3 separate regions of the Homo sapiens genome follow, and all the other regions are linked to region 1. The links come from fine-mapping of genetic effects on gene expression. A gene starts in region 1. Each other region holds a variant in brackets. All regions are shown on one strand. Distances are from middle to middle.

Region 1 (5,000 bases):
GCTCTATTTTTTCTATTCTCTATTTTGTTTATCTCTGCTCTAATTCTTATTATTTCCTTCCTCCTACTAGTTTTGGGTTTCATTTGCTCTTCTACTTCAAGTTCCTATGGTATAAAGTCAGGTTATTGATTTTAGATCTTCTTTTTTAATGTAGACATTTATACCTATAAATTTCCCTTTAAGTACTGCTTTTACCGCATCCCGTAAGTTTTGTCGTGTTGTGTTTTTGTCTCTAGGTATTTTATAATTTCTTTTGTGCTGCTTTTTCTTGTGACTCATTGGTTGTTTGAGTGTTTTGCTTAATTTCAACACATTTGTGAATTTTCCAGTTTTACTTCTGTCACTGATTCCTGTTGTGGTCAGAGAAGATACTTTGTGTGATATCTATCTTTTAAAATTGATTGAGACTTATTTTGTGGCCTAACATATGGTCTATCTAAGAGAATGTCTTACATGTGCTTGAGATGAATGTTTATGCTGATGTTGTTGGGTAGTGTGTTCTTTATATGTTAGATGTAATTAGTTTATTGTGTTGTTTATGTCCTCTATTTCTTTACCTTGTCTGGTTGTTCTATCTATTATTGAAAGTGGACAGATGAAGTCTGCTACCATTGTTGTAGAACTATATCTTTCTTCAATTCTGTTAAGTTTTGCTTCATAAATTTTGAGGGTCTATTATTAGGTGTGTAAATATTTGTAATTGTTTTATCTTCTTGCTATATTGACTATTTTATTAATATATAACATAATGTTTCTGTCTTTGAAAACTTTTTTGATTTAAAGTCTATTTTGTCAGCTGTTAGTACAGCCACTCCAGTTCTCTTTTGGTTACTATTTGCATGGAATATCTTTTTCTATTCTTTCCCTTTTGATCTATTTGTGTCTTTGATCTAAAGTCAGTCTTTCATAGACAGCATATAGTTGGATTCTAGAGTTTGGTTTTTTTTTGTCAATCTGCCTTTTCTTTGGACAGTTTAATCTATTTATATTTAAAGTAATTACTGATAAAGAGGAATTTCTATTTTTCTATTTGTTTTCTATATGCCTTATAGTTTTTTTGTACCTCATTTTCTCTATTACTGCCATCTTTTGTATTTAGCTTATTTTTTGTAGTAAATGTTTTGATTCCCTGATCATTTCCATTTATGTATATTTTACAGGTATTTTTGTGTTTACCATGAGAATTACATTTAACATCCTAACGTTATAACAATCTCATTTTAATTTATACCAACGTAACTTCAATAGCATACAAAGACTCTGCTCCTATATTGCTCCACCCCCACCCTTTCTATTGATGCCACAAATTACATCTTTATACATTGTGTGCCCAATAATATACTAATCTTGTAAAAAATTCTTTCTTAGCTGTCCTAAGAGGAACCAAGGGAGGAAGTGTTCAACCCTGGACCAGTGCTTTAAAGCATCAGCAGAATGTCCCTTACATCAGAGTAATGTGGCATTGGGCAAACCCTAAAGAGCATGGGGCAAACCCTAAAGAATGTGGATAATCAGAAGAATAAAATGTAGGCTATTTGGGCAACCACATTGTCTCACGTGAAGATATTCCTTCCAGAACTGAACTCCTGATGTCTCTGAGTTTTGTTTTACTTAAAGATAAGTCCCTCTTTCCCAGGGGATAGTCTCTGTTTTGGTCTGTCTTCAACTGTATGCAGACTGCAATTTGGGGCTAGCACACAGAAGGCAACATGCTCCTGATCCTTGGGAGTGTGTTCTTGCCGAGTGCACTCAAAAGGAATACAAAGATGAATTATAGGAGATCCGAGTTCCAGAGGGACTGTAAGTTTGTGTAGCTGCTCACAACCAACTTAGCTTAAAGTGGGATGTATGGCTCTCTCTTATTGGTGACTGGGACATTATGCCTTGTCCCTCCAGAGCAGCATTTTATGTGATTCCTTTCTGCTTCTCTAGTGCATCTGTGTCCAATACATGTTTGCTGAATTAATGCATTAGTTGGGACATTTGTAGATTCCCTACAACAATTTACTGCTAGGAGGATTATTTGAACCTAATACATATGCAAATATATATATTTATACTTTTGCAAACATGATATGTATAAGTAGTTCCTAGACCAGTGATTTTCAGACCTTGCTACTCATCAGAATCACCTGAGGAGCCTTCCCAAAACCCCGATTCCTACGTCCCAACCACAAAGATTATTTTAATGAGTCTGAGGTGGAAGCCAGGAATCTACATTTTCAAAAGCTACCCAGGTAATTCTGATATGCAGTCAGCATAGATAACCACAGCCCTTTGACTACCTAAGAAAATGTAGTAGTCAAAAAAAGGTATATGAACTGCCTTCTATTCTTTAGGGAGATTCTATGTTAATATAGCATACGGTCAAGAACACTACCAATGTAGCCACTTCCTAGCTGTTATCTTTAGACAAATTACCTAATCATTCAGAGCTTTAGTTTCTTGATGTGTAAAATAGAGGATATAGGTTTACCATGAGGATTTATGTAAAGCCTTAGCACAGTAGCTGTACTATAGCACACAGTAAATGTTGGCCGGATTTATTCGGCTGTACACATGAGCCACTGGATTTGTCTGGATGCAGAAGTCTACTGCGGTACACCTTCTTCAGCAAGCTCTTGGGAAAGCAGGGGAGATTTCCTGGTACCCTAGGAAGTGGAGGATACTAAAGCCATGTCACAGGGAGGGGCATTATTCTTCGTGCGCGCTTGCTCGCCGGGGTCGGGTTGCTGCTCCGCGCGCGTCCACCAGGGGCCGCTCGAGCTACCTAAGCTCCGTGCGCTACCCGGCGGCGCTCCCGCGCGTGCTCACTCGGAGCAGCGCGCGCCCCGCAATCGCCGCAGCCGCCCCCGCCGTCGGCCGCCGCACCCCAAGCGACTGCCCAAACTAAGCCTCCGTGGCTGGGTACGGGAGCGCTTTGGGGACAAAAATTCTCCCTCAACTGTGGTCTGCATTCCTTCGGCCCGTGGGCTGATCTGGGGCGGGAAGTATTAGCGTCTCAGTTGCGCTGCAGCCGGGGAGGAAGGAGGAGGCCGAGCCTGGGGCGGAGTTTGGGCTGACTGGGGCTGGACCGGGCAAGACGCCGCCGCTGCCCGGATGTTGCGATGGCTGATCGGGGGAGGCCGAGAACCGCAGGGACTGGCCGAGGTAAACCCCGGGTGGGTCTGCTCTGCGTCCGTCGAGCTTGCTGGAGGGGCGGCTTCGTTCCGGTTCGGCCTTCCTGGGTTCCGACCGCGGGGACCCGGGCGGAGGCGGGGCTGGCTGCTGAGCTCGTGCCACGCGCTGTTCTCACGACGGTGGGGGCGGAGGGCGCGGGAGCCGGAGCTCCTCAGACCCGGCGGGACCCCAGGCGCACCCTGGAGCTGCAGACCCCCGGCCCCGTCCCACGGCTAGCTGAATCGTGAGATCCTGGCTCAGGGACGCTCAGCTGGTCAGCAGTCCTATTGGGACCTGTGACAACTTAGGGCTTCTGGCTACCGAAACTATCTTCATTTCCACTTAAAAAGTATACGATTTAGCTAGAAACGAACGAGTTGTGACCGCAGCTTTCCACTTTTGGTTTATTTGAATTGGTGTCTCTTCCTGGCGTCTACTGATACTTGGTCAGGGAATATAAAATTAATTTACTTATCCAACAACCGAAAAAGGATATAATTATTTTTAAAAAGTAATCTGCTTCAAGGTCAAGAACATGATTTTCTAATTAACTGCTGTTTTTGGTTTCATAGTCACACTTTCTTCATGGGCCCGAATAATTGAATAGACCGTGTGTAATGAAATTTACATTTGAAATGTGAATAAAATAATTTTTGCAGTCTTGGAAATTTTGAGGTCCCAAATTTATTTCGTATGCCACACAAGAACTTTCATGCGCGTCCGTGTGAAGAGACCACCAAACAGGCTTTGTGTGAGCAATAAAAGCTTTTAATCACCTGGGTGCAGGCGGGCTGAGTCCGAAAAGAGAGTCAGCGAAGGGAGATAGGGGTGGGGCCGTTTTATAGGATTTGGGTAGGTAAAGGAAAATTACAGTCAAAGGGGAGTTGTTCTCTGGCGGGCAGGAGTGGGGCAAGGTGCTCAGGGGAGCTTTTTGAGCCAGGATGAGCCAGGAAAAGGACTTTTACAAGGTAATGTCATCACTTAAGGCGAGGACCGGCCATTTTCACTTTTGTGGTGGAATGTCATCAGTTAAGGCGGGGCAGGGCATTTTCACTTCTTTTGTGATTCTTCAGTTATTTCAGGCCATCTGGGCGTATATGTGCAAGTCACCGGGGATGCGATGGCTTAGCTTGGGCTCAGAGGCCTGACAAGAACAGAATTTGTGAATTGCATTTTATTTCTCATAAGAAGTATTTGTTTAGATTGTTAAAAGTAAGAAATTGGATTGTTGAGAGTAGGCAGTCTTCTCAATTTTAACTTCCGCATGTCTTTGCAGTTGACGGTATTGTCTGTTTTTAAAAATTTCTTATTTCAGATTAATCCTAAATCCTTGAGATTGTGGATTATTGAATAGCCATATATGGTATATACGACATTTTGGATAATTCTGTTTTAACCTGGTTCTTTGGTTAATCATGTTATTTGCTTAACCAGGTCTCCCATTCCTGGCAAGTTTTCATTGGAGGAGAAGCAGTTTATATAGTTTTCAAATTTCTCACCACAATCTCTTCTAGAAGGAAGACAGAATAAATACAAAATCAATGCTTTGTGGTGGTGGTTTTTTTTTTGGAAAACATTTATGCATGTTTTAAATTTATATATTTCTTCATATAAATCTAATTGAGTTGTATAACTGCTGTGAATTTGTACATTATCGGAACCTATGATTGTCCCTAATTTATGCAATAACTTTGTATCCAGGCTTCTCGTTTAAGCAGTGGTTCTCAACTGGGGTGATTTTTGCCCCGCAGGAGACATTTGGCAATGTCTGGAGACATTTTTGATTGTCATGCCTTGCAGAGGGGCAGTTCTATTGGCATCTAATGTGTATAGACCAGGGA
Region 2 (5,000 bases), 63 kb before region 1:
TCAGGATGTTTAATAGCGTAAACAAATGGAAAACTTCAGCTTGTGATCCAAGGTCGTTTTCAAATTGGAAATGACCTCAGCCTGCCCCAAGAGGGCTAATGATGTAAAAATAAGTAGGGCCCAGTCCTCTGGGGAATTCGGTGCAGGTCAGCGAGGCTCTTTTGGTGAATGCGGCAATCTGCTCTGCCTCCATAGGCCTTTGTGTAGCCAGACTCCCTGGGAAAGGTGGGCTGTCTGCTGTTGCCTGGCACATATGTAAGAATATTCTTTTTCAATTTCCTTTTCTATTTTTCTTAGATTTTTACTCATGCACAAGGAAAAGCTCATAAGACACTAAAAATGTCACAATGGTAAATTTTCCTTTCCTAAACAGAAAGAGAATTCAAGAGCAATGATTTTTCTTTATACAAATTGTTTTTTAAAGTTAAATATTAATTTAAAATATATTAACATTTGAAGAATCGCATTTTAACGATTACCTACATACCTACTCCTGTTTTGTTTTTTTTTTTTTTTTTTTTTTAAAAAGAACATTTGAAGTTCCCTATGTGTTCATTTCTTCCCTCCCTACTTAAAGGTAATCATTACACTGACGTGGGGTTTTTATTTGCTTGTTCTTACTCACTGCATTGCCACATTTTTTCTTCTAAACAATATGTTGTTTAATTTTGCATGTTTTTGGCCTTTATATAAAGATAATCATACCGTATACATTCTTTTGTAACTTCATTGCTTCTACTATAAGTCATTACTTTTAACTCTCACCTAATAGTCCATTGTATGAATATGCCACAGTTTATTCATTCTACTGTTGGTAAACATTTGGGCTGTTTTCATTGTTCTCTATTATGAATAGTGTCACTATACTCTGAGTATTACTACACATGTATTTTGGTGTATATGTGCAAGAGTTTCTGTAGGTACGTGCCTAGGAGTGGAATTGCATGCCTTCAAATCCACTAAGCAATTAATGCCAGACTGCTTTTTCAAAGCGACTATACTGATTCCTACTGCCATGAGAAGTGTACAAGTGTTCTAGTGGCTCACGCTAACATTTAATATTGTCAGAATTTTTAATTTTTGCAAGCTTTACAGATGTGAAATGTCATCTTACTGTGAGCATCTTTTATCTTTTTATACTTTTGGTTACTTCTGCCACCTCTTTGTGAAATGCTTGCTCAAGTCTTCTGTCCATTCTCTATTGGATTGTGTGTGTTTCTCTGGTGACTTATAGTAGGTCTTTGTATATTCTGGGTACAATTTTGGGGGCTCATTTTTAGGGTGTAACAAATCACTTCTCCCAGAGTGTGGTTTACTTATTTATTCTCTTAATGGTTTTTTGTTTTGTTTTGCTTTTAAACAGAAGTTTTTAACTTTAATATACTAGAGTTAAATTTATCACTTTTTCTTTATGGTTAGTACTTTCTGTGCTATGTCTAGTAAATCTTTCACTACCTTGAGATCATAAAGATATTCTTCAATTTTGTCTTTTAAAAGTTTCATACTTTTGCTTTTAATATAACTCCTAATCCACAAGGAATTTTTTGTTTATGTGTGTAAAAGGGATCTGTAATAAATAATCTAATTCCATTTTTGATGTTTGACTACCAACAGCTTTCAGGCTCCACCCCTCCCCCTTTCCCTCTTGCCCAGCATCTGGCAAAGCTGATTAGAAACCCCAGGTGCCCCCTCCCTTGGTGCCAAGGAGAAGTTCAAATCATCCCTCATACTGGCCCTATCACTGACCACATTAAAAATCAAAGACCCTTTTCTCTCCCTCCCTCAAGCCATTTAGAACTGGCTTGGATGCCTGTCCTGTTCTGACCAGAAAGCCTCATTGTGTGTAATAAACTTTTAAAATACCTTCTTGTTGTAAATGTGGTATCAACAATCTTGATATCTGAACCAGTTTTGGATGGGGGCATTGAGCTCACCTTTCATGGGGCAACCACAAAAATAAGACCCAATTTCACTTTTTTCCCCACATGAATAACCAGCTGTCTTAGTGATATTAAATTTAAAACTCCACAAACAATACAGAAATTAGCTGGGTGTGGTGGCGCGTGCCTGTAATCCCAGCTACTTGGGGGCTACACGTAGGAGAATTGCTTGAACCCAGGAGGCAGAGGTTGCAATGAGCCGACATCATGCCACTGCACTCTGGCCTGCGCAGTAGAGCGAGACTCCACCTCAAAACAAACAAACAGTCAGTCAGTCGGGTGCAACGGCTCACGCCTGTAATCCCAGCGCTTTGGGAGGCCAAGGTGGGTGGATTACTTGAGGTCAGGAGTTCTAGACCAGCCTAGCCAACATGGTGAAACCCCATGTCTACTAAAAATACAAAAATTAGCTGGGCGTGGTGGCATGGGCCTATAATCCCAGCTATTTCGGCAGGCTGAGGCAGGAGAATTGCTTGAACCCGGGAGTCGGAGGTTGCAGCGGGCCGAGATCGCACCACTGCACTTCAGCCTGGCAACAGAGAGAGACTCCATCTCAAAAAAAAAAAAAAAAAAAAAAAAAAAGTCCATCTTTTCCCCACCACCTTTGTCAAAAATCAAACCTGTTTCTGGGTTCTGGGTTCTCTGTTTTCAACTGTTGGTTATTTTTGCTATTTCTGTGCAAATGCCACTGTGTTAATTGCTCCAGCTTTATAAAACACCTGATATCTGGTAAGGCAAGTCTCTTCCTTCTGTTTTTCTTCTTCAGTAGTGTTTAATTCTTGGCTCTTTTCTTTCCATATGAATTTTAGAATCAGCTTGTTAGTTTCCACAAAGAAACCTTGTTAGGATTTTGATTGAAATAGTATTGAATCTTTACATCTTTATGAATTTGTCTTCCAATCCATGAGGATAAGATTTATACTTCATTTATTTAGTCTTTTTATCTCTTTCAATAAAATTTTATAATTTCTTCATAAGGATCTTACCCATTGTTTGTTAGATTCATTTCTAGGCACTTTATATTTTCGGATGCTGTTGTAATTAATGTCTTTTTTAAAGATAATTACAGGCTAGGCGGGGTGGCTCA[C/T]ACCTGTAATCCCAGCACTTTGGGAGGCTGAGGCAGGAGGATCTCTTGAGCTCAGGAGTTCAGGACCAGCCTGGACAACATAGCGAGACCTTGCCTCTGCTAAAAACCAAAACAATTAGCTGGGTGTGGTGGTGTGCACCTGTAGTCCCAGCTTCTTGGGAGACTGAGGTGGGAGGCTCACTTGAGCCAAGGAAGTTGAGGCTGCAGTGAGCCGTGATCATGCCACTGCCCTTCAGCCTGTGTGACAAAGTGATACCCTGTCTTAATAAATAAATGAATTAAATAAAAGATAATTGTAGAGTAATATGCAGTTTAAGATACAACGCAGAAAGATCCTTTGTACACTTTGCCCAGTTTCCTCCAACGGTAACATTTTTGAAAATAATAGCATAGTATTACAACCAGAAAATTAATACAATTCACTGATTTTATTTAGATTTTTCCAATTTGAATTGTACGAGTGTGTGTGTTAAGTTCTATATACTTGTATTTTTTTTTTTTTTTGAAACAGGGTCTTGTTGTCTCACCCAAGCTGGAATGCAGTGGTACAATCAGGTACAGCCTCCACCTTCTGGGATCAATGAATCCTCCCACCTCAGCTTCTTGAGTAGCTGGGGCTACAGGTGTATGCCACTGTGCCCAGTTAATTTTTGTATATTTTGTAGGTTGGTCTCGAATTCCTGGGCTCAAGTGATCCACCCACCTCAGCCTCCCAAAGTGCTGGGATTGCAGGCATGAGCCACCCCACCCGGCCTCTAGGCACTTTTATCAGCTATGTAGATTCTTGTATCCACTACCACTGTTCAAGATACTAAACAGTTCCAGCACAACAAGGATCCTTCCTGTTGCTCTTTATAACTACACCACTGTCTTAGTCCATTTGTGTTGCTATAACAAAATACTATAAACTCATAAACAACAGAAATTATACTAAATAAGTTATAAATTATACTATATATTATAAATTATAAAAAATTTATATTATATAATAATAACAAATTTATTTCTGATAGTTCTGGAGGCTGGGAAGTCCGAGATCAATACATCAGCAGATTCAGTTTCTGGAGAGGGCCTGTCTCCTAGAAAGGTACTTTGTAGTTGTGTCCTCACATGGTGGGAAGGGTGAGCTAGCTCTCTGGGATCTCTTCTACAAGAGCACTAATCCTATTCACGAGGGCTCTACCATTATGACCTAATCACCTCCCAAAGGTCCCACTTTCTAATACCATCTCACTGGTGATTAGATTTTAACGTAAGAATTTCAGGGGGACAGAAACATTCAGACCAGAACAACTACTTCCCTACCTCCCCTCACCAATCTCTACCATCTGGCAACCACTAATCGATCCTCCATTTCTAAAATTTGGCACTCCCCAAATTTTATATGCATGGAATAATGTAGTGTGTAACTTTTGGGGATTATAAAACACTATATCATTGTACTCAGCAGAATTCCCTAGAGACATCCAAGTCATATGTATCAACCGACTATTTATTTTTATTGCTTAGTAGAATTCCATGTTGTGCATATACCACAATTTCTTTAACCATCTGTTGACTTCCAGTTTTTAGCAATAACAAATAAAGCTGCTATAACCATTAATTATTTGGGTTTTTATGTTAAAATAACTTTCATTCCTCTGGCATAAATGTCCAGAAGTGCAATTATTGGGTTGTATGGTAGTTGCAAGTTTAACATTTTAAACAACTGTTAAACTCTTTTCCAGAGTGGCTTACCATTTTACATTCCCACCAGTAATGTATGAGTGAACCAGTTTCTCTGCATCCTTGCCAGCATTTGGTGGTGTTATTTTTTAAAATCTTAGTCATGTTGATATGTGTGTAGTGGTATCTCATTGTAGTTTTAATTTAAAGTTTCCTAACAGCTTATGATATTGAATATCTTTTCATGTGCTTATTTTTATCATCTTTGGTAAATGTCTGTTTATGTCTTTTGTTCATTTAATAGATTT
Region 3 (8,275 bases), 61 kb after region 1:
TTGCCTGTAGTGAAGGAATAAGATCAGTTGAGGTAACAGATTAGCTGTGAGAACTAATAACAGTGTAATCAGGGCCCTAAGGAATTTCTTAAATTGTTCTTCCCTGTTTCATAGCCAAAGAACAAAAAATTTCTTTTCATTTGAAAGGGCATTCATGCTTAGGAGGAGCAGCGGCAGCATCCTTGTTAGTGAGCATTTCCTGTATTTCAGGCACTGTGCTAAACACTGGCTGCTGGAGTTTACAGAGAGAGATGAAAACAGTCCTTGCCCTCATGGATCTTACCCTTGAGTGGAGAGAAGGGGTATAGACCTAATAGGCTGTTACCCTAGGCTGCATTTGATGGACCCAAGTAAGCAGCAGTGACTCAGAAGAAACATTTCTTGCTGAATCTTGTAAATGGTTAGAGGATATAGGACTTGACACTTGAGCTGAACCTTGAAGTTTAGTAGGATGAGTATATAGCCTTGTCATCATAAGCTCCTTGATGTTGGGGTACAGTGTCATAGTTATCTTTGCTTTCCTCTAACAAGTAGCTCAGTTTTTAACTTTGTGTTTATGGTTGGGAGGTGAGCATGGACTGTGGTAGGCAGAAGGGCAAAGATAGCATTTACGTGGTGGCAAGGAGCACCTTGGCTAGGCCGGAGCGCTGGGTTCCTGTGAACAGACACTAGTAGGGGATAAAGCCTGGGAACGTGGTTTGGGGTCAGATTATGGATGTCCTTGAATGTAAGGCTGAGGAGTTTGGACTTTATTTTTTAAATAGTAGGAACTCATTAAAAAGGTTTTTAGATGGTAGGGAAAACCCCATGTAAAAGACATTCAAAATGTGTTTGAATGTGGCACATTTCTCATTCTATAAAACAGTGTCAGCTTCTTAGGAATTTTCCTGAGTGAAAGTGTTGAGACCTGAACACTTTTAAAAAGCATCTCCAGCTTCGTTGATAAAATCTAGGCTATCTTTGCAGTGTCACCTGAATTTCCTCATTTCTTTTTTTTTCTTTGAGACAGCATCTCACTCTGTTGCCCAGGCTGGAGTGCAGTCTTGGGTCACTGTACTCTCCGCCTCCCAGGTTTAAGCAATTCTCCTGCCTCAGTCTCCCAAGTAGCTGGGATTACAGGTGCCCGCCACCACGCCCAGCTAATTTTTGTACTTTTAGTAGAGATGGGGTGTCACCATGTTGGCCAGGCTGGTCCTCATTTCTATTTTCATCCTTGCTCTACTGGCGCAACCCCTCTACCTGTGTACTGAATTTTGTGTTTTCCAGTTTCCGAAGGAATTCTGCTCCCATGTTTCCTCCCTTCACTCCTGCATCCTCAGCTGAGTCTTATCCTGTGGTCTTCAGAAATGTATATGTCATTTCAGAGAAAACTCTTGTTTTTTTTCCCGAGAGGGAGTTTTGCTCTTGTTGCCCAGGTTGGAGTACAATGGCGCAATCTCCACTCACTGCAACCTCTACCTCCTGGGTTCAAGCGATTCTCTTTCCTCGGCCTCCCGAGTAGCTGGGATTACAGATACCCAGCTAATTTTTAGTATAGACAGGGTTTCACCATGTTTGGCCAGGCTGGCCTTAAACTCCTGACCTCAGGCAGTCCACCCACCTCAGCCTCCCGAAGTGCTGAGATTACAGGTGTGAGCCACCACGCCCGGCCCTGTTTCTCTTTTATTTCACCCTTTCCTTCGAGGACCTCATCCTTTTCATTGATTCACTTTTCTGATACAACTCTTCACCCCATAGTATTCATGCTGCCTTTTGTCAACACTCTGTTTTCCTATTCTTAGCTTCCAGCCTATTCCTTCACTGGGCAAGCCCCTTCCCCTTACTTGGGGCATTTTCTCCCTTTGAAGCTTTTTCTGAATTTCTGTGACATGTCATAGTCTATACTGCATTATTTAGTACCTGATTACATAATCTCTCATTGGTACCTTTATTGTTTCAATTATGATTTGCTTTTCAGAATCTTCTTGAGGGTAGGGACCATAAACGTAGTGCTGACACTTAACACCTATGGATTGAGTATATCTACTTTTATAGAGAGCTGAAGCCAGTGTTTATCTTGGGAAATTTAGAATTCAGACATTTTTTCCATAGCCATTATACAGTATAAGTAATGGTTAAGTAAAACCAATACTTGAAAAATCAGATGATGAAAAAATCTGGAAGAACTATGAGAATTCATGTACTTTACAAAAATAGCTATTCTGTAGTTGAACAATATTAACAAAATTCTGATTAAAATATTAGATATTATTTGTATGTGACTTACCAATACTGAAAAATGAAATGAAGTTCTACACCCAGATCCAAAGGAGTCTTTAAGGCACATATCT[C/G]ACACGCACATGTGTTAATGTGGTATTAGACACTTCTCTGCTTTTCGGGGTCCCTATAATCAGTTTTAATTTTCTTTACAGATGTTTCTATACTTTGAAGATCATGGACTAGTGACGTGCTCCGCTGATCATCTCATTATTTTGTGGAAAAATGGAGAGCGAGAATCTGGATTGCGCAGTTTAAGATTATTTCAAAAATTAGAGGAGAATGGTGACTTATACCTTGCTGTCTAGTTTAAGGAATTAAAAATACACATGCATGAACCTTGAACATCAAATATCGGGTACTACTCTGAAAACCATTAATATATTGATCACTTAAATTGGTAATTTTTTTTGTCAGTCCATAAAATTCTACATGTTTAAATTTTTTGTGGACCTACCAACCAGGAACATGTTGCTTCTCAGGTCCTAGTATATCCTCCAAAGAATATACCACAAGTTTTTCCATTTGACTTTGAGCTGCTGTTGAAGTGGTGAGTGCTGTGTTTTGAGCTTATTTTGAACCTAGATCCTTGTGAAAGGTACAAATAGAGGTAATAGTTAAGTTATGGCATTTATTAGAAGTTTTATTATTTGGCTTCCTTTAGAATTATTGTGAAGTTTAAAAATAGCCTTTCTCCTGCAAATTTTCCTAGTCTTTAGTAACTGTTAGTGTTCTATATAGCACAAACTTGAATCTCTCAGCCAAAAAAGGGAACATATATACTGTTTAAGTATGGCAAGTTTTCTTTGGTACCAATTTGTTTAGATAATTTTAAAAATGTTTTTTAGTTCTAGCTACTAAAACCTGTATGAACTCAAATGGATAGGCATCTTGTGAGGGTGTGTTTTTCCCAGTGTGAATTGGCTTGAAGAGCCATGGGCTAAATGGGTACTAGAACAACAACTGCCCCTCATGTACGCCAAGGATGAGCTCTAGATCATTTGAGAGGCACAGTGTTTCCGGAGTCAGGGACTGCAGCTGAGCGCAACTGCCCCATCTGACCACTGACTCAAATACGAACTGCTTGAGACAGACTTCTTTTATGTAGTTCTTTGCAGTGTCCATTGAGACACTATAACCAGCCTTGTAACAATATGTTTTCTCCTTTTGGTGCTAAAAAATGAAAATATTAGAAAGTAGTCTACACATTAAAGATTGAAATTCTTAAACTACTGATGAAGAAAGGGCAACGTGACAGATGTTAGCAGACTGACCCTTCTTACAGAAAACCTACAGATTTATTTGTTCATTATACAAATATACTACAAATATACCCTAAAGGGAATCTCCATAAGTTCTTTTACTAGTTTTAGCTTTGACAGTTGCTTCCACAACTACCTACAAAGACTGGAAGAGTTAAGGTCATCTGAGTAGACCAGTGGCATAATGTTACAAATGAGGAAACTGAGGCCCAGTGCAGTAAGGCCTTGCAATTAAATCTGTAGTGCCCAGTATCACCAAGCAGCTCTAAAAACAGGAACTGAAGACTGAATGAGAAAAGGCTTATATGACTACTTTAAATCCAAACAACATTGAGTCATGAAAAGTTCTATGGAGAAATATTAAAACTTAAGCTACCTCAATTACAGAAGACTTTCTCCCATTATTCACGTGCTTTTTCCTTTAGAAATTCTGCATTGGCCCATACATTTGTAAAGTTGTTTTCTGAAGTTGTATGACACAAGGGAGCCATAGACTTAACTGTTTTACTTCCTAGCCTGTTCTAGGCTAGTATTTTGTGATAGTAATCTATTCAAATGGAGTGGTAGAAATCACATGAATTTTGGAAGCAAATGGTACCGTAAGTACCACAGCAAATTCCTTCTGGTCATTATACAGGCGTACCTCAGAGATACTACAGGTTAGGTTTCAGACCACATCAAAAAAGCAACTATTGCAAATAGAGTGAGTCACATCTAGTTTTTGGTTTCCCAGTGCCTATAAAACTTGTGTTTATACTACAGTCTTAAATTTCTAAAAAATGTACATACCTTAAGAATACTTTATTGCTAAAAAATGCTAACAATCATCTGAGCCTTCAGCGAGTCATAATCTTTTTGCTGGTGGAGGGTCTTGATACTGCTGGCTGTTGACTAAGGTGGTTACTGAAGGTTGGGGTGGCTGTGGCAGTTCCTTAAAATAAGATAGCGATGAAGTTTTCCAAATCAATTGACTTCCTTTCACAAATGAGATCTCTGTAACATGTAATACTATTTAATAGCATTTTACCCACAGTAGAACTTCTTTCAAAATTTAGAGTCTGTCATCTCAAATCCTGATGCTCCTTTATGAACTAAGTTTATAGAATATTCTAAATCCTTTGTTGTCATTTCAACTATGTTTACAGCATCTTCACTGTGGAAATGACTGTCTCCAGAAACCACTTTCTATACACATTCTTAAGCAACTTCTCATCTATTAAAGTTTGATCATGAGATTACAGCAATTCATTCACATCTTCAGGCTCCACTTCTTCCAGACTCCTTTTAATGCTGGAATTTTGACCGCCTCCCATGAATCAGAATGTTCTTAGTGGCATCTAGAATGCTAAATGCTTCCCAGAAGGTTTTCAATTGACTTTGCCCAGACTCTTCAGAGGAATCACTAGTTAGGGCAGCTACAGCCTTATTAAATGTATTTCTTAAATAAATAAGACTTAAAAGTCAAAGTGACTCCTTGACCCATGGACTGCAGCATAGATGTTGTGGTAGCTGGCACGAAGACAACATGAACCTCCTTGTACATCTCCATCAGAACTCTTAGGTGACCAGGTAACATTGTAATGGGCAGTAATATTTGGAAAGAAATTTGAGCAGGTCTCAACCATAGGCTTAAATATTCAATAAACCATGCTATAAACAGATATGCTGTCATCTAGGCTTTGTTATTCCACTTCTAGAGCATAGGCAGAGTAGATTTAACATAATTCTTAAGGGCCTTAAGATTTTTGGACTGGTAAATAAACTCTGACTTCAACTTAAAGGCACCAACTACACTCGCTGGCATTGAACTTCTTCTCCCCAGCTATGAAGTCCTAGATGACATCTCTTCTAATAGAAGACCATTTCATCTTCACAAACTCAGTTGTTTAGTGTAGTCGCCTTCAGTGATCTTAGCTAGATCATCTGGACAACTTCCTGCTGTTGTTGTCCCTTGCACTCTGACGTTAATGGGGATAGTTTCATGAACCAACCTCTGCTTGCTTCCAGCTTTTCTTCTGTAGCATCCTCACCTCTCAGTCTTCGAAGAAAGAATTGAAGAATTAATTAGGCTTTGGCTTAAGGGAATGTTGTGGCTTGTTTAATCTATATAGACCACTCAGACTTTCTCCATCTCAGCAGTAAGGCTGTTTCACTTTCTTGTTTGCATGTTCACTGGAGTTAACACTTTCAAGAACTCTTCCTTTGCATAACTTGGCTAACTGGTGTAAGAGGCATGGCTTTCACCTGCCTGGGCTTTCAACATGCCTTCTTCACTAAGCTTTATTATCTGTAGCTTTTGATTTAAAGTGAGAGACATGTGACTCTTTTACTTGCACATTTACAGGCTACTGTAGGTTATTAATTGGCTTAATTTCGATATTGTTGTGTCTCAGGGAATAGGGAGGTCTAAGAAGAGGGAGAGACTGGAAACCGCTAGTTGGTGGAACAGTTAGAATATACACAAGATTTATCAATTAAGTTCACTGTCTTATACGGGCATGGTTTGCAGTACCCTAAAACAATTACAGTAGTAACAAAGATCACTGATCACAGACCACCATGACAGATACAAGAATAAAAACATTTGAAATACTCTAAGAGTTACCAAAATGTGACACTTACACAAAGTGAGCCCATGCTGGGAAAATGCCCCGATAGACTTGCTCTATGCAGGGTGGCCACAAGCCCTCAATTTGTAGAAAAGGCAGTATCTTTGAAGCACAATGAAGCAGAATGCAATAAAATGAGGTATACTTGTATTCTAATTTTCTGCCATGAAAAACTGTCTAGAGGGCAGTCTCCAACCCTAGGGACTAGATTGCTTTTGTTTTCATGCATGCCCTAAGGTCACAGAGATGGGGGATAACAGTATGATGGGAGATTCTGGTAGGGACTCAAACCTGATGGTGTTCAGTAGTTGCAGGTAGACTGCTGCTAAAAGTTGGACTTTCAATTTAGAATAAAATAATGGGTCAATGTATATTATGTACATTTTCTCCATTTCCTGAGTTTAGCTTTCAACAGTTAAGATACTTGCAACAGCAGAAGTAACACTACATAGTGTTACAGTGTACAAATCCCTTGTCATTTTTATTTTAAAATATATTTATTACCTCAGTCTCTGGCTATATTCACATAGCGCAAGGGCACAAGATCATCCCTTCTGTTTCTCTCTCTAAAGCTGAGTAGGTTCTGAGTGAACTGACAGGCTTGTTTTTTTTTTGCCCAGAATGCTAACCAGTCCTGACATGGAGGGCAAGTAAATTTAAAAATCTTAAATTAGAAATAAAGAATGATCTTAGGAAATTATAGGGTCATTCTGGTCCAGCAGTGTTTTATAACTGGCTTCCTTCTCTTACTAGTCACGGAAATTATTAGAGAGTGTTGCATTTTCCTAATACGGCCCTCCTCAGCACATGACATTTAAGTAAACAACTCTGTGTAAGAGGCAGTTATAATAGTTTATATAATATAAACTATCTGATACACATATCATCTGAAAGCCTGTATTTCTAACAAGTTGACTATGTGGAAGAATAGACTAGTTCGCAGGCCAGAAGATTATACCGTAGATTACACTGGTAAAGAGCAGAAATTGTTGACGCTTTAGTACCTAGCTGTCTTAAAGCATTTTTAAACATTTGCACATTACTAATAAAAAGTTTGAAGTTAACAAGAAATTTGACATAAAACTGAGTAAGCTGTAAATATTTCATATAGAAGATGTCTGACACCTGATAAATGTTACTTACCAAATAGAACTGAAAGTGAGATGATCAGAAAAAGATTGTCCTTGCCTCAAGCAAGCTTCTGAAGCCTAGGCAAGTTAGCTAGGTCCTTAATATGGGATTCTGGCATCCTGATTTTAATGTGCTCTGAAAACAAAGTGTGTGACTCATGAAATAAAGGACACTAAACCCCAAATTTGAAATTATGAAAACTTTAGGCCAAAGAGGTAAAATAAAAACAGCTGTTGGGAGTGAAAAATGGCTGTAGGAATTTAGTTACAAGTACTTCACAAAAACATTTTCATCACATTTACATAATATAGCATTACAATACAAAGCTGGCTGCTGTCCTGACCAAGCAAGTTCTCTTATCATCTAACAAAAATAATTTAGATACATTTCTTTGCATGGAATTGTCATATTTTTCCATTTTTGGTACAAAACATAGAAAAAAACATTGGCACATTATGTAGTGATAAGTCATTTTTTCCCCATGTACAAGTTCCAAGTATTCTGCATTCCAATTTGTATTGGAAAAAAGTAATTACTGATTCAATTAATTCAGTCTCTGTTTGTTTATACCTTTTAAAAATGCAGCATGAAGTACAGAGAAAGAAAAATGAAGTTTGTTTACGGAGTCTAATATTTATAATACATAGGAAGGATCAGCTGGTAAAAGAGAAAGGAAAATCTCGAGTCTGACTTTATGTAGATCACAGGGAGTTGTGAAAAGAGCAGTATAAAAATATGCACTTGTGCTTTAGAAGCTTTTAGCATACAATTAATAGCTTAAAATAGTATTTACTGCCTCCCCATATGCCTATTTTCTGATATATTTACACCACACAATTTTAACATTGTTAAAGCTAATGGCATGATTTCAAATATAGACTGGTTAAAAATATCTGAACCTTGAAACTTCCCCTATCCCCTCCCAAAATATTACGTATAGATGGTGCATGGCACAACATACTGCATGGGCTTACACCCAGAAAATTTGGATTTTAATAAAAATTTTAAACATGTATA

Alleles and levels. Alleles are on the strand shown, and positions count from the first base shown. SD is a standard deviation of normalised expression in the study named. Not every link is listed here.
For the expression in prefrontal cortex of the gene that starts at base 3,004 in region 1, G is the low allele of the variant in region 3 and C is the other (moderate effect, 0.49 SD a copy in CommonMind).

What was found.
Region 2: its variant is fine-mapped to the expression of WDR41 in blood mononuclear cells (TOPMed, PIP 0.95).
Region 3: its variant is fine-mapped to the expression of WDR41 in prefrontal cortex (CommonMind, PIP 0.95).

The regions. Positions count from the first base shown.
Region 1 is chr5:77,490,320-77,495,319 of GRCh38, reverse strand. WDR41 (WD repeat domain 41) reads left to right here and starts at 3,004. Exons shown (of 13, transcript NM_018268.4): 1 at 3,004-3,150. The coding sequence starts at 3,100. RefSeq lists silencers at 2,699-2,838, 3,279-3,498 and an enhancer at 2,619-3,542.
Region 2 is chr5:77,553,618-77,558,617 of GRCh38, reverse strand. It overlaps a transcript of WDR41 not described here. Among named protein-coding and RNA genes, the nearest start is that of WDR41, 64 kb to the right of the region's middle. The variant C/T (reference allele first, on the strand shown) is at 3,028.
Region 3 is chr5:77,427,424-77,435,698 of GRCh38, reverse strand. It overlaps WDR41 (WD repeat domain 41), which reads left to right. Exons shown (of 13, transcript NM_018268.4): 13 at 2,412-4,766. The coding sequence ends at 2,564. It overlaps PDE8B (phosphodiesterase 8B), which reads right to left. Exons shown (of 22, transcript NM_003719.5): 22 at 7,443-8,275. Among named protein-coding and RNA genes, the nearest start is that of WDR41, 61 kb to the left of the region's middle. The variant C/G (reference allele first, on the strand shown) is at 2,331.